4 linked regions of the Homo sapiens genome follow. The protein of the gene in region 2 purifies or fractionates together with the protein of the main gene of each other region. This does not show direct contact. Each region holds a gene or a part of one and is shown on either strand. Other genes may lie near its edges.

Evidence for each region. Proteins that work in one complex are often made in the same cells at the same time.
Region 1: the proteins of MAGEB3 (region 2) and MYH2 purify together in Homo sapiens (co-immunoprecipitation; one large-scale study listed by IntAct). This does not show direct contact.
Region 3: the proteins of MAGEB3 (region 2) and CD200R1 purify together in Homo sapiens (co-immunoprecipitation; 2 studies listed by BioGRID and IntAct, with this or other methods). This does not show direct contact.
Region 4: the proteins of MAGEB3 (region 2) and MYH3 purify together in Homo sapiens (co-immunoprecipitation; one large-scale study listed by IntAct). This does not show direct contact.

The regions. Positions count from the first base shown.
Region 1 is NC_000017.11:10,529,039-10,532,968, reverse strand, and holds part of MYH2 (myosin-2), read left to right. Parts: intron 1-1,080; coding exon 1,081-1,336; intron 1,337-2,894; coding exon 2,895-3,137; intron 3,138-3,228; coding exon 3,229-3,405; intron 3,406-3,487; coding exon 3,488-3,633; intron 3,634-3,716; coding exon 3,717-3,807; intron 3,808-3,889; coding exon 3,890-3,930. UniProt on the Homo sapiens protein: Myosins are actin-based motor molecules with ATPase activity essential for muscle contraction.
Region 2 is NC_000023.11:30,235,465-30,238,064, forward strand, and holds the end of MAGEB3 (melanoma-associated antigen B3), read left to right. Parts: intron 1-399; 5' UTR 400-460; coding exon 461-1,501; 3' UTR 1,502-2,031; downstream 2,032-2,600.
Region 3 is NC_000003.12:112,968,484-112,972,413, reverse strand, and holds part of CD200R1 (cell surface glycoprotein CD200 receptor 1 isoform a precursor), read left to right. Parts: intron 1-3,930. UniProt on the Homo sapiens protein: Inhibitory receptor for the CD200/OX2 cell surface glycoprotein. Limits inflammation by inhibiting the expression of pro-inflammatory molecules including TNF-alpha, interferons, and inducible nitric oxide synthase (iNOS) in response to selected stimuli.
Region 4 is NC_000017.11:10,633,190-10,637,119, forward strand, and holds part of MYH3 (myosin-3), read right to left. Parts: intron 2,665-3,930; coding exon 2,546-2,664; intron 2,375-2,545; coding exon 2,178-2,374; intron 1,835-2,177; coding exon 1,651-1,834; exon of another isoform or gene 1,496-1,650; intron 994-1,495; coding exon 828-993; intron 527-827; coding exon 402-526; exon of another isoform or gene 227-401; intron 1-226. UniProt on the Homo sapiens protein: Muscle contraction.

The DNA of each region.
Region 1 (3,930 bases), on a different chromosome or scaffold from region 2:
TAAGGGACATTGACCTGCAAAACAGACAGTATACTCAAGAGTGCTTTTACACAGGCTGTAGAGACAACTTTTTCCCTCTGATCATTTATATTATCAAACTCTCATGATTTAAAATATTAGGGGCCATTTATCTGTGAAAGACTTTTTGCAGTAAGTTAACACAATGCATCAGGGAATGTAGCTATTTGGTGATCTAATTTGATGCAAGGACAGAGTTCAAAGACTATAGAGCCAGGTGTCTCAAAGTACAGGATGTCTGTGATCAGGACCATTTCTCCATGTTGAGAAAGGCATTTTACATTGCCACCTATACATCTACACATATACATATGTGTATGCAGATATATAAATAATTTATATGAAGCAAATTTTATTTTTACCACTTGTAATTATGCTAATATTTTCAACTATATTCCATTTTATTAAAAATAATAAATTTTGGTCATGATCCACGATATATATATATTTGGGTAATTGTCTATATATGGGGTAATTAGCTGTAAAAATCATTTAGATGAAAACAAAAGTGGTATTAGAGAATAGAATACAAAATTCACACAACATTAACATATAAAGCCAGATATTTTCTAAGAAATTCTGAGTTTTTAATATCTCCTGCCCCATATACCCCTAAAGAGCTGTGTTCCCCCTTCACTGCCCTTAGTGGTGTTTTAGTAGCAATGTTTGAGAAGCACTGACATACAGCAAGGCTTCTCAAAGGGTGCTCCTTGGACTTGCAACATCAGCATTTCTTGCAAACTTGTTAAAAGTGCCAATTTTCAGGCTCCACCCTAGATCTTCTGAATCTGAATCTGAATCTACGGAGGTGAGGTTCAGGAGTCAGTATTTTAACAAGCCCTTCAGGTGATTCTTATGCATGCCAAAGTTTGAGAAGCAGTGATGTAGAGAAATGAGTGACCTTAGCAAGACCTTGACCATCATCCCGAAATAGAATTTTTTCATCTGCATGTTTGAAAGCAGAGTAGGAACAAGGTGAAGCAGAACCTCCAACTCTCACTGCCAAGGTTTCATCCCATTGCATCAACCACACAATACTAATTTGCATCAATTAAATTTCAGGGAGGCCATCTTCTGTATCCAGTACAATATCAGATCCTTCATGAATGTCAAGCACTGGCCCTGGATGAAACTCTTCTTCAAGATCAAGCCTCTGTTGAAGAGTGCAGAAACTGAGAAGGAGATGGCCACCATGAAGGAAGAATTTCAGAAAATTAAAGACGAACTTGCCAAGTCAGAGGCAAAAAGGAAGGAACTGGAAGAAAAGATGGTGACGCTGTTGAAAGAAAAAAATGACTTGCAGCTCCAAGTTCAGGCTGTGAGTTGGAATATCACCCTTGGTATCACTAACCAGGATGCAGGTGCTAGAACTTTGGCCATTGTGGGCCATGAGTTGGGTAATTGCAAGGGAGACACTCATTGGAAGGAAAAGGTTAAAACACTCCAATGGCACGAAAAGGTCCAAACATTCCTCCATTGCCCAATAACCCCCAACAAACCAGCACCAGGGCAGTGAGGTAGAAATATCCCTCATTTTCCATTGTACACAATTTCATCAAACCACAAGATTTTTGACTTATTTTCTCTTTAAATACAGTCCATAAAAATGATTTTAATATGACACAATCCCAAATAAAATATGAAGGGGAGGATAGCATGGAGAGAGTAATATTTTTCGGAAACTTCCTTGAACTTCTAGATGTCCACGGGTCTTAAATTATAATAGGAACAGCTGACATATGACAGCACTCTCATCAAATTTTACTGAATTATCGTGTGATATTGATCTCAAAAACTCAGACTCCCTCTTTCTAATCTGTCTCCACAGTCAGTGTCCCATCATGTCACACCCACATTGCTGCATCAGCACCAAAGTTGCTCAGCCTACTTCCCAATTGTCTCTTCTTCCATCCAGCCTGCTCACTGCCCTCTCCTGAACCAATCATTTTAGAACTGCTTCCATCAACTTCAGACTATAATTTATAAGACTATGTTTTATTTGGAGTGAATTGAATTGGTCTACTTATCATAAAGTCATATTTTTTTCTGTTAAGACTGGTCTCTCTGTCAACGTTGAGCAGTATAATAACTCCTTCTAGATTACAGAAGGAAAAAGCCCTCCAAATCTACCCTGTATTCTCTTCTGTTGTCCCCAGAGATTTATGCAGAATCTGTACTAAACCACTGTATTCGTTACACAGTTATACATAGCACCCTGCATTCCTTAATGTAGTCAAAGACTGATATGGAGGATTACTGATGAGTATATATTCCAGTGTCTCCTTCATTTCCCGCCTGCCCTGTCCCCCTTAATTGGAAACAGCAGGTTGCCAGGAATTTCTTGATTACTTTATGTTTCAACTTGAATTTAGTACATCATAATCAGGAGCATCCTCCAGTACTACAAAAAAAAAAAATCAGTAGCAGCTGTATCTTGAATTTGTCCTGCTAGAATGCTTCCCCACAACCCTCCTGCTCCTCTCCACAATAAGTTGATTTCTGCAAAAGCAAATCCTACCCCTCTCTCAAGGCCCAAATCAAACAGCAATTCTTTCATGAAACCATCTCTGATCCAACTTCTCTGATCTGTTATGTCACTAATTGCTTTCTACATTAATGGTAGCTTTTGGGAAATAGGTTTTCTAATCTACTGTAGAATACATTCTTTTAGGGGAACAAAATGACAACTGGTACATTTTGGCTTACCCACATGTGGAAAATGTACACAGTAGGGTGGTTCATGAAACAAAAATTTGTGAAGGAGTAAACAAATGAATATAGGAAATTCAAAAGATCAAATGCAGAAACATACACTCTTATCCATTGTGAAGTATTTCATTCTTTCTTCCCAATTTTGATCTTGTTTCCAACTTAAGGAAGCCGAAGGCTTGGCTGATGCAGAGGAAAGGTGTGACCAGCTAATCAAAACCAAAATCCAGCTAGAAGCCAAAATCAAAGAGGTGACTGAGAGAGCTGAGGATGAGGAAGAGATCAATGCTGAGCTGACAGCCAAGAAGAGGAAACTGGAGGATGAATGTTCAGAACTCAAGAAAGACATTGATGACCTTGAGCTGACACTGGCCAAGGTTGAGAAGGAGAAACATGCCACAGAAAACAAGGTATCAATCATATTCTACAGTACTGTATAGAGGTTCTGCCACCCAACAAAGGTGCTTTATAGCAACTAAACTGCTTTCTTCACCTTTGTAGGTGAAAAACCTCACAGAAGAGATGGCAGGTCTGGATGAAACCATTGCTAAGCTGACCAAGGAGAAGAAGGCTCTCCAGGAGGCCCACCAGCAGACCCTGGATGACCTGCAGGCAGAGGAGGACAAAGTCAACACCCTGACCAAAGCTAAAATCAAACTTGAACAACAAGTGGATGATGTAAGTCTGGTATCATCAAGGACATTCTTTTCTTCTAAAGGAAGATAAGCATTCCTTCTGATTCAACATAATTTATATTTAGCTTGAAGGGTCCTTGGAGCAAGAAAAGAAACTTCGCATGGACCTAGAAAGGGCTAAGAGGAAACTTGAGGGTGACTTGAAGTTGGCCCAAGAATCCATAATGGACATTGAAAATGAGAAACAGCAACTTGATGAAAAGCTCAAAAAGTAAGTAAGAAAGAATTGCTTATGGATTTGCTTCCAACATTAGATACGGACTAAATTGTTGTCCTTTGCTACTTTTCTAAAAGGAAAGAGTTTGAAATCAGCAATCTGCAAAGCAAGATTGAAGATGAACAGGCACTTGGCATTCAATTGCAGAAGAAAATTAAAGAATTGCAAGTAAGTACATGATTTTCATCAGTCTGGCTCGGAGGCAGTTATGACACAAAGAAGCTGAGTTTGTATTTTCCACCATTCCCAGGCCCGCATTGAGGAGCTGGAGGAGGAAATCGAGGCAGAGCG
Region 2 (2,600 bases):
CTCTTAGGTGGTCCCAAGGAGATGAGGACATTTGCTGGAGGTGTCAAATTTAGTGCAGCACAGGGGAGAAGACCCAGCCCTGACAGTTTTTATGATGGTCCTGAGTGTGAACTGAGAGAAACCTCCTACCCCAGAGTAAAAGGAGATCCACAAGGACTAGACATGCCACGGCTGCTCTCAGTCCCAGTATACACAGAACAGGGCTGGCAGGCTGTGGCCTAAGGCACACTTTAATTACTTTCACAGGGTTCTCAGAGGACAAACTGATCAGAACAGAAGCCCTCTGGGTTTCCAGAGCAGTGCTCTCACAGAAAACTGCAGAGGCGACCTTCTTTTAAATCCAAAGTGGTACCTCTCTGCTGAAGGCACTCATACCCTCTCTTTCTCTCTCTCCTCCAGGTGCCTGTATCACCTGCCCTTCTGCTGACACTCCTGCCTGCTGTTCCTGACTACAGCCATCATGCCTCGGGGTCAGAAGAGTACGCTCCATGCACGTGAGAAACGCCAGCAGACCCGGGGTCAGACCCAGGATCACCAGGGTGCTCAGATCACTGCAACTAACAAGAAAAAAGTATCCTTTTCATCCCCTCTTATTTTGGGGGCTACTATCCAGAAAAAGTCTGCTGGTAGGTCACGTAGTGCTCTCAAGAAGCCTCAGAGAGCACTATCCACCACTACATCTGTAGATGTTTCTTACAAAAAGTCATACAAGGGAGCCAACAGCAAAATTGAGAAAAAGCAAAGCTTCTCTCAGGGTCTATCCTCCACTGTGCAGTCTCGCACAGACCCTCTAATCATGAAGACAAATATGTTGGTGCAGTTCCTGATGGAAATGTACAAGATGAAAAAGCCCATTATGAAAGCAGATATGCTAAAAATTGTCCAAAAAAGCCATAAGAATTGCTTCCCTGAGATCCTTAAAAAAGCTTCTTTCAACATGGAGGTGGTATTTGGTGTTGATTTAAAGAAAGTTGATTCTACCAAGGACTCCTATGTCCTTGTCAGCAAAATGGATCTCCCCAACAATGGGACAGTGACTCGTGGGAGGGGATTTCCCAAGACAGGTCTCCTGCTGAATCTCCTGGGCGTGATCTTCATGAAGGGCAACTGTGCCACTGAGGAGAAGATCTGGGAATTCCTGAATAAGATGAGAATATATGATGGGAAGAAACACTTCATATTTGGGGAGCCCAGAAAGCTCATCACCCAAGATTTGGTGAAGCTTAAATACCTGGAGTACCGACAAGTGCCCAACAGTAATCCTGCACGCTATGAATTCCTGTGGGGTCCAAGAGCCCATGCTGAAACCAGCAAGATGAAGGTCCTGGAGTTTTGGGCCAAGGTCAATAAAACTGTCCCCAGTGCGTTCCAGTTCTGGTATGAAGAGGCTTTGAGAGATGAGGAAGAAAGAGTCCAAGCTGCAGCTATGCTCAATGATGGCAGTAGTGCCATGGGCAGAAAGTGTTCCAAGGCCAAGGCTAGCAGCTCTTCCCACGCCTAGTGAAGTTGAAGCAAATTTTGCATTTTGTGGTTAAAGAGGGCAGTCACTGTTCCAAGGAGTGAAGGACTGGGTGTTACTGGAGGGAACACACTGTATAATACCTTTTGTTTCTGTTCTAAATGGATAATTTGAAGTTTTATCTGTATTTTGGGGCATATTTTTCAAATGTTCCTTTTATTTAACATTGTAATCTAAGTTTAGGATTGATACTGGTCACATTTGTTGTTTAAGAGTAAAAATTTTGCTGTTTTGTAAAACAGATTGAGAAAAATTCGATCTTATTTAGTGATCTGTTGCAAGATAACTTGGAATTAGAATAAGCATTTCCTTGAAAATGTTTAAAAAAAAAAAGTCAGCAGTAAAATGTATGGCATTAAGAAATAGAGAAAGAGTGTAAGATGGTCAATATTTGGTTTCCTAAATGCTTTTACTCTGTGCTTTAAGAAAATGAAAGATAAATAACCATATATGTCTGGCTTACTTAAGAATGTAGAATTAAATCATAATAAATTAGACCTCATGCTGACACACTCATTCTCCAAGTGTTAATTGAGCATCTGCTCTTGGAAGGATCCATGCTAATACTGGGAGGGCTAAGAAAAAGAAGACCTAGCAACTGACCTTAAAATTATAAGGTCGAGAAGCAGCTATCATCTAAGGAAAATGGTGATATACACTCTAAGACCAAAAGGATACATGATAAGAAGGGAGGGAGGTGGTTCCACATGAGAACAGTCAAGTATGAATTATCTAATCAAGGCGGTGTTGGGCCTAAGGAAAGTGCAGGTCCCTCAATGGGAGTTAATCTAAGTGAGGCTCCATGGTGGGCTGGATGAGGCTGTGGGAATGGCGAGCAGGGGCCAGGCTCTTAGAAGTTGCCTCTCACGCAGTGGCGGGCGCCTGTAGTCCCAGCTACTCGGGAGGCTGAGGCAGGAGAATGGCGTGAACCTGGGAGGCAGAGCTTGCAGTGAGCCGAGATTGTGCCACTGCAGTCCGGCCTGGGCTAAAGAGCGGGATTCCGTCTCAAAAGAAAAAAAAAAAGAAGTTGCCTCTCAGAGGTGCGAGACAAAGCTTGGAATAGGAAACAGTTCTTAACAGT
Region 3 (3,930 bases), on a different chromosome or scaffold from region 2:
TTCCTTCTTTGGGCTAATTTTTATTCATTTATTGTTGTCTTCCACTAGAGGACAGGCAGTAACAAGAAGAGGAGATAAAAATCAAGACAGGGCTCTAAGGTAGCTTTGGCAGATTTGCAAACAGTGGAAAAAGATTCAAAACAATTGTGCAAAAGAAGGGTTTTGTCCTTATTAATAACTTTAGTCCTATCTTCCTTTTCTAGTTTGCATATTTGTGAATTTACATGTTATAATAATTTATAGGTGTGTTTTTCTCTAAATGTTCATGCTTAAGCAATTAATAAATTAATTAAAAGTCCTTATTAATGTCTGTGTGTGTGTGTAGAATAGTGCCTAAAAGTTATTAGTAATCTAAATTAGAAAGACAAAGGTAAGATGAAACAATTGGTGAACATTTAAAATCAGTAAATCTTGAAATTGTATATGAAACTAGTACAAATCTAAAGGAGGGAGAAATTACAGTGGGTTGGAGTTGTGGAGGATTTTATGGAGATGGGTCTTGAGCTAGGCTTTGAATGACAGGTTTGGATAAATGGGGAAATGCAGAGAAAGGAATTGGAAGGATGGGATGTGTAGCATGTGCAAATGCAAGGTGCTTCAGAGAGAGAAAGAGCTGTAGCTTGCAGGAACAGAGGTTGTGTGTTAAATAATAGTAGGAAATAAGGCTGGATTTTGGGGGTCCTTAATAGCTAAATTAAAGAACCTGGGTATTAGTCAGTAGACAATGAGGAACCACCTGTTCTTTGGTGAACAGGAAAATTTATAATTAAGTAGGATTTTTTGGAGAATAATGTGGTAACAGTGTCCCATTGAGTGGCGGTGGCACTAGGTAAAATATTTATTTTGAAACATGAGTCAAGAGCTTCTGCCCTGGGGTTCTCATTTGAAAAAAGTTCTGTGATGCCGCTGAGGTATATATGTGACTGAGAAGGGAGTTTCGTTGTGGAGGAAGATATTAAATTCAGTATAGGAAGGGAGGACAAGTAGGAGGAAAATTCCTACAGATACTTGGAAATACAGTCAGCCCTCTGTATTGCATCCCTGGATTCAACCAACTTCAGTTGAAAATATAAAGGGAAAAAATAGATGATTTCATTAGTACTGAACATGTACAGATTTTGTTCTTGTCATTTCCTAAATAATTCAATATAATAGCTACTTATGTATTATTTACATTGTATTAGGTTTTATAGCAATCTAGAGATGATTGAAAGTATGTGAGAGATTGTACATAGGTTATATGAAATACTACACCATTTTATATTAGGGATTTGAGCATCCTTGAATTTTGCCATCTCTGGGGGTCTAGAACTAATCCCCCAAGGACACTGAGGGATGACTGTATAGAAAACTCTAGTGTTTGTGAATCATTCATGAAGTAGATGATCCATCCCACGAACAGAATAAACATATGGACAAAAACAATAGAATAAGCACTAGAGATATTTGGATTTGGGCTCTAAGAACCATACTTATCTCTTTCCAGTCTATAAAAGATAGGAAGATCTGAGAAGAGACAGGAAGGGAGCCAAAGTGGAGTATCAATTGAGTGCTTAACCTCATGTAGGAGGAGATACTCTTCTGAAATTGAGGATTAAGATGAGACATTAGATAGAGGGATGCTAGTAGCTTGAGGATGGCAATAAGGTAATGGGAACAAATGAGAGAGTTTACCGTAGATAAATTTCCTCCCAATAAGGTCATGAATATTTCAGTTAATGGCATTTAGTTAATAAAATGACCCAGTTGTTGTTTGATTTTATGTTGTGTCTGAAAAATTAACCATTTGTGTCTGAAAAACCATTTGTGTCTGAAAAATGTAGTAGCCATCAACATGTTTTTACCTCTTCTGCCTTATTATCACTCACATACATTTGTCAATTGCTGACTGGGATTTGGGAGCAGATCTGTGGTTATAAAATACCTTTGGACTATGTGATGCTAGTAGGCCCTAAGAATCAAGTCAACAATCATTACTTTTTAAATAATAATAATGGTAATAAATATCACTGATTTATATAATTCATATAATAGACACAGTCACAATCAGCCCTTTTTCCCCCCAGGAAGAAATGATATTGTTCATGCATTAACACTAAGCAACAACTTCAGAGTTTTTCTACATAGAATTTATATGCCTAGACCCCATTCTAGGACCAAAATCTTTAAGGAAAGCAATACCAAAAAGTTCCAGGATTAAAGCAGGGCTAAAAGTTTTTCTATTTCTTTTTTGAGACAGGGTCTTACTCTATCTATCACTCAGGCTGGAGTGCAGTGGTGCAATCATGGCTTACTGCAGCCTTGACCTCCCAGTCTCAGGTTATCCTCCTGTTTCAGACTCCCAAGTAGCTGGGACTACAGGTGTGCACCACCACGCCAGGCTAATTTTTTTTTTTGTATTTTTTGTAGAGACAGGGTTTTCCCATGTTGCCCAGGCTGGTCTTGAACTCCTGGGTTCAAGCAATCCTCCTGCCTTGGCCTCCCAAAGTGTTGGAATTACAGGCGTGAGTCACTGTACCTGGCCAGTTTTTCCACTTTTGAAGAAATAATTTTCTTCAAAAATGTCTGTTACTTTGAGTTATTGTTGCTGTTGCAGGTTCTCTTGGAAGTTAGACTCTGAGATAGAGTTTTGTGTACAGTATGCTTGTGAGCAGAGGGAGAAGTCTACCTGCAATCTCAACCAACTGACACCCTCACTGACCCCACAGGGAGCTCAGGAGCTAGATTGGCCTTAGAGAGGCCCTGCATTGAATAAAAATGGCTGTTCCTTTATAACTCCATCTAAATCAGTCGTTGGATATGGGCTCCCCTGGAAAGGGTCTGACTTTGGTCTAAGTAACTGAAGTCATCCCTGGAGAGGCTGAAAACTGAAGACTGTCTGTTGACAGTGATCCTAGTGGCAGGAACAAAAAGTCAGAGGCAACTGTTGGTGGCACATACTATGTCCACTCTAGTTGTCATTTCTAATACTCTTAATTCCTTCTTGAATTTCCAAGTTTCTACCTGGTATTATTTTCTTTCATCCTGAATAATTTCTGTTATTGTTTCTAGTAGTGTAGGTCTGCTAGTGAGGAGTTCTCTTAGTTCTTAGTTCCCTTTTTATACATATTTTCCCCAATATCTTGTCTCTCTGTTCTTTTGATTGAATAATTTCTATTGCTATATATTCAAGTTCACTGACAATTACAATTTCCTTTCTCCTCTTCATTCTTCTGTAAAGCCCTAGTTAATATATTATTTTAGATATTGTATTTTTCAATTTTAAGATTTCCATTTATTTGTTAAAAGTTTTTTTTCTCTGCTGAGATTTTTCTGTGTTTTTATTCATTCATTGTGAGTATATATTTCTTTATGTCACTAAGCATAGCTGAATGTTGCTGTAAGACTCTTGTCTGAGAATGCGAGTGTCTGGGTCAACTTGAAGTTGTTAGTCTCCCTTAATGTATTTTCTCCTAAGCATAGGCCACATTTTCTTGGTTCTTTGTAAATTAAATAGTTTTATTTGGGTTTTGAATGTTGCACAGATTCTGTTATATTGCTGTGTTGATATTTTACTTGGTTGGACCCAAACTGCAAACTCTACCCCTTGGACAGCATCTCAAATCTGAGTTCTTTTACTGGTAGCTAATCTGCTTTGACTGTGACCTGCAATGTGTGGTTTAGAGTCATCAGAGATATGGGTAGAGTGTATGCAGAATTTGGAACTCTTTTACTCTGACTCTGTCACTTTTCAGAGAGTAAAGTTGCCCTAAAATCTGCCTGCTGGTTCTTCAGAAAACTGTGGGCTTTCCATTAGAGTAGCTGCCTAATGTGGTATCATCTGCAGCCCTCTCTGGGACTAACATCGGTAAAAATGGGGAAATAATGGGAACCTACACCCACAACTCTGATCCCCTATTTCCTTCTTCCAAGCATTGACACCCTTCAAGA
Region 4 (3,930 bases), on a different chromosome or scaffold from region 2:
AACTCTGTCTCAAGAAAAAAAAAGTCCCAAATTTATCTTCAGTGCAGAAATAAAAGCACGTTTCATTGCTTTTTGGTTTTGATTATACTATCAACCAATAATAATGTTTAAATCATATTTCTTAGGAGCATAAAGCACTTTCTAGATATTTTTAATTCATGTAATATTTTGTAAAATCTCATCTTTAGGCCTATTTAATATGACAGTCTTCTCCAATAAATTTAAGATAATTCACAGGTATTATTCAGCCTCACAGTTTTGCTGTGTGACGGGAAAGCAGCAGGCATTAGGACTGTGATTTGACAAAGGCAAAAATGGAGACACAGCATGGAGCAGCCAGCCTCCCTGGCCGTGGCTCACCATGGCTGCATCTGCGCCTGAGCCTGCCTCCCAGCACTCACCTCTGCTTCCTCGAGAGCCAGCTGGATATCAGCCTTTTCCAGCTCAATCTGCTTTCTTGATTTCTCCAGTTCATGGATGGTTTTGCCATTTTCAGCAATTTGTTCTGTGAGATCTGCTATCTCCTCTGTAAAGAAGTAAGTTTCAGTTGCATATGAGCGCCTCTGCGTGGGTTTCCAGACATGCAAAGCATTGACTCAATGCTTTTTACCTGGTTTATTATAATCCTAAGGTTTCCTGCTTCCTAGAGATAAGATATTGTACAGAGAGAGGCTAAAACGTAACCCGTCAGATGGTGAACACTTTCTGCATGTGCATTAACACACATGTGTGCAGGAAACTGAGTGATGAAGCCACACCCACGCCAGCATGCTCTCGAGCAATAGAGCATGAAAGGAGGAGGTTTCAGAGGGTTTCGAATAGCTTACGCTCTAAGTTCTTATTTTCCCGTTTCACAGTTTCAAGTTGATCTAAGGCTTCCTCGTAGGCATTTTTCAGTTTGAAGAGCTCAGTGCTCAAGGAGCGGGACTCCTTCAGGGATGCCTCCAGCTCTGCTTGGCTCTCCTCACACTTTGTCTTCCACTCTGCCAACACCTGAAACACCGGACGGAAGTTCTCTCCGTTTCTGAGCTCTCCTCTAGGTTTCTAACAAAATACTAAATAACTAAATTAAATGCAGAGTTAGGGCTACACTTGGCATCACTTGCCTGGCTCCTTGTTGTCGATTATTGGGCTAATCAAGATTCTGTTCCATAAATGTACTCAAGGTAATGAGTCAGGAACAATTGCCATCTTGAAAAAGCAAATAGATCCTTTGAGAAGGAATTAGCTGGGCATAATTGTCCTTTTCCTAATATAAAAAGGGCCCTGTACTTCTAAATATTTCATTAAAGCATTGGTTCCAATCAACTTTATCTGCCATCTTGAAAGAAGGGCTTCCAGAAAGCCTCCCAATAGGATCTCAGCTTAGACAGACCAGTAGTACGGAAAGGAAAAATGCTTAGGACTGCACGGACATTGTAGAAATTGGTTTGTTTCCACGGACAACATTTGAAAGGGACCTCTACCCCCAGCCCATTCCCATTCTGTTTTGCAGATGAGGAAACTACAGCCCGGTGAAGTTCAGGGACTTGCCCAAGGCCACACTGCTGGTGAGGGCAGAGTCAGGTCCGGGATGCATTCTCCTCCTTCCACGGCTGCTAGGAATCCCTTACATCATGGCATTCACCCAGCACACAGCGGACCCCACACCTTGTCAAAGTTCCTCTGCTTCTTGTCCAGAGCGGCGGCCAAGGAATTGGCTCTTTCAACATCAACCATCAGATCCTCCACCTCTCCTTGCAGCCTCTGCTTGGTCTTCTCCAGTGAAGCACATTTAGCATTCACTGCCTCAACCTGTTCCTCGGAATCTTGAAGGCGCTGAGCAAGTTTTTTCCTTAAAGAATATGAAAGAGAAGCAGCTGTTATTTCAGTTTCCATCCACTTGAACATCACTATTCATCAAGTTGGAATCACTAATCTATGTGATTCAGACACCCATGTGTTTTTATACGCCCAGGAGAATTTCCTGTCTACTCAAAATCTGGGATCAATAACTTGCCTTGTGTCTGACCAAGATCAAAGCTGTTTGTTTTAATAAAATGTGCTAACGCCAGGTCCCTCTAATGGCCCAGCACCGCATTTAAAGACACATGAGATGGGGAAACGCCTAGTAATAAAAATAAATTCATCGAATTCATTCCTAAGTAGTTCTTCTAAAAGCAAACAGAGCTGCGCACTTGGCCTCCTCCAGCTCTTCTGTGCGCTGGATGGCGTCCGTCTCGTATTTGGTTCTCCACTGGGCAACCTCACTATTGGCCTTGGACAGCGCCCTCTGCAGCTCAGCTTTGCCTTCCTGCTCCTCCTCATACTGTTCCCGCAGCAGGTCACAGTCGTGGCGGGAGGACTGCAGGGCGTGCGCCAGGGCGTTCTTGGCCTGCAGAAGTTAAAAAGAGAAGAGCACCTGATATATTTAGTGCCAGGTGCATGATACAATCCAAGTGTGTCCCTTCTATCACCACCTTCTGAATGAAGTTGCCTTTTATTTTTTCCTCCTACAGGTGATATTTAAAAATAAGGGCAAAGAAGTCTTCCTTCAATGGTGTACCTTGTTCTCTTCCTCCAGCTGCCTCTTGAGCTCTTCTGTTTGCTGGGTAAAGGCTTGCTTGCTCCTGGAAAGTTGGGATACTATGCTTTCTTTTTCTTCCAGCTGACGACTCAGCTCACCTGTGTCCAGAAGGAAATAGTTTCATTTCATTTATTCACTCATTCACTCACCAACTTTCTATTATGTGTAGGGCACTGTGCTAAGATCTGGGGAGACAGAAAATGATAAGATATGGTTTCTTCTTCAGGGAGAAGGTATATGGTTCATGAAAAGGAAACTGAAAGCAGAACTGATAAGGTATTGTTGTAGGCCAGGTGCAGTGGCTCACGCCTGTAATCCCAGCACTTTGGGAGGCTGAGGCAGGCAGATCACAAGGTCAGGAGTTTGAGACCAGCCTGGCCAATATGGTGAAACCCCATCTCTACTAAAAACAAAAATTAGCCGGGCGTGGTCATGGGCACCTGTAGTCCCAGCTACTTGGGAGGCTGAGGCAGGAGAATCACTGGAACCCAGGAGGTGGAGGTTGCAGTGAGCCAAGATCATGCCTCAATCTCAAAAAAAAAAAAAAAAAAAAAGATATTGTTGTAAACTACTGGAAGGTGGGACTGATGTCTGTCAAAAAAAAAATCCATTGAGAAGAACTGTAAATGTAAACGTTACCAGGAGCACCTAATAACTCCCATCAGACCTCCCCAGTGGCAGGTGTTTCCAGCTGTTTATTGATTTGTTATCGACAAATACATAGGGAAATACTTAGAGCTTTATATCTCTAGTTAGACTCTTGGGGGAATAGGGTAAGTTCAAGTTTATATGCTTACATAGAGGTAAGAGAAAAACATAGAATGGGGCTTTATGGCTCCAGACGTGAATCCCCCAACATGGTAAAAGTGGCCACCATAGGCCGGGTGCGGTGGCTCACGCCTGTAATCCCAGCACTTTGGGAGGCCGACGCAGGCGGATCACGAGGTCAGGAGTTCAAGACCAGCCTGGCCAACACAGTGAAACCCTGTCTCTACTAAAAATACAAAAATTAGCCGTGTGTGTTGGCATGCGTCTGTAGTCCCAGCTACTCAGGAGGCTGAGGCAAGAGAATCGCTTGAACCCGGGAGGCGGAGTTTGCAGTGAGCCGAGATCACACAATTGCACTCCAGCCTGGGTGACAGAGAGTGAGACTCTGTCTAAAAAAAAAAAAATGTGGCTACCAAACTTCTTTTCTTCATTGTCTTGGCTGTGACTGCCAGCCGAGGATGGATTCACCTGTGAGGATGCACCAGGGCTGGGTGAAGCCACATTTTCTAGGCGAAAACTCCAAATAACATTCCCTTAAACTTTTTTTTTTTTTGAGACAGAGTTTCATTCTTGTTGCCCAGGCTGGAGTGCAATGG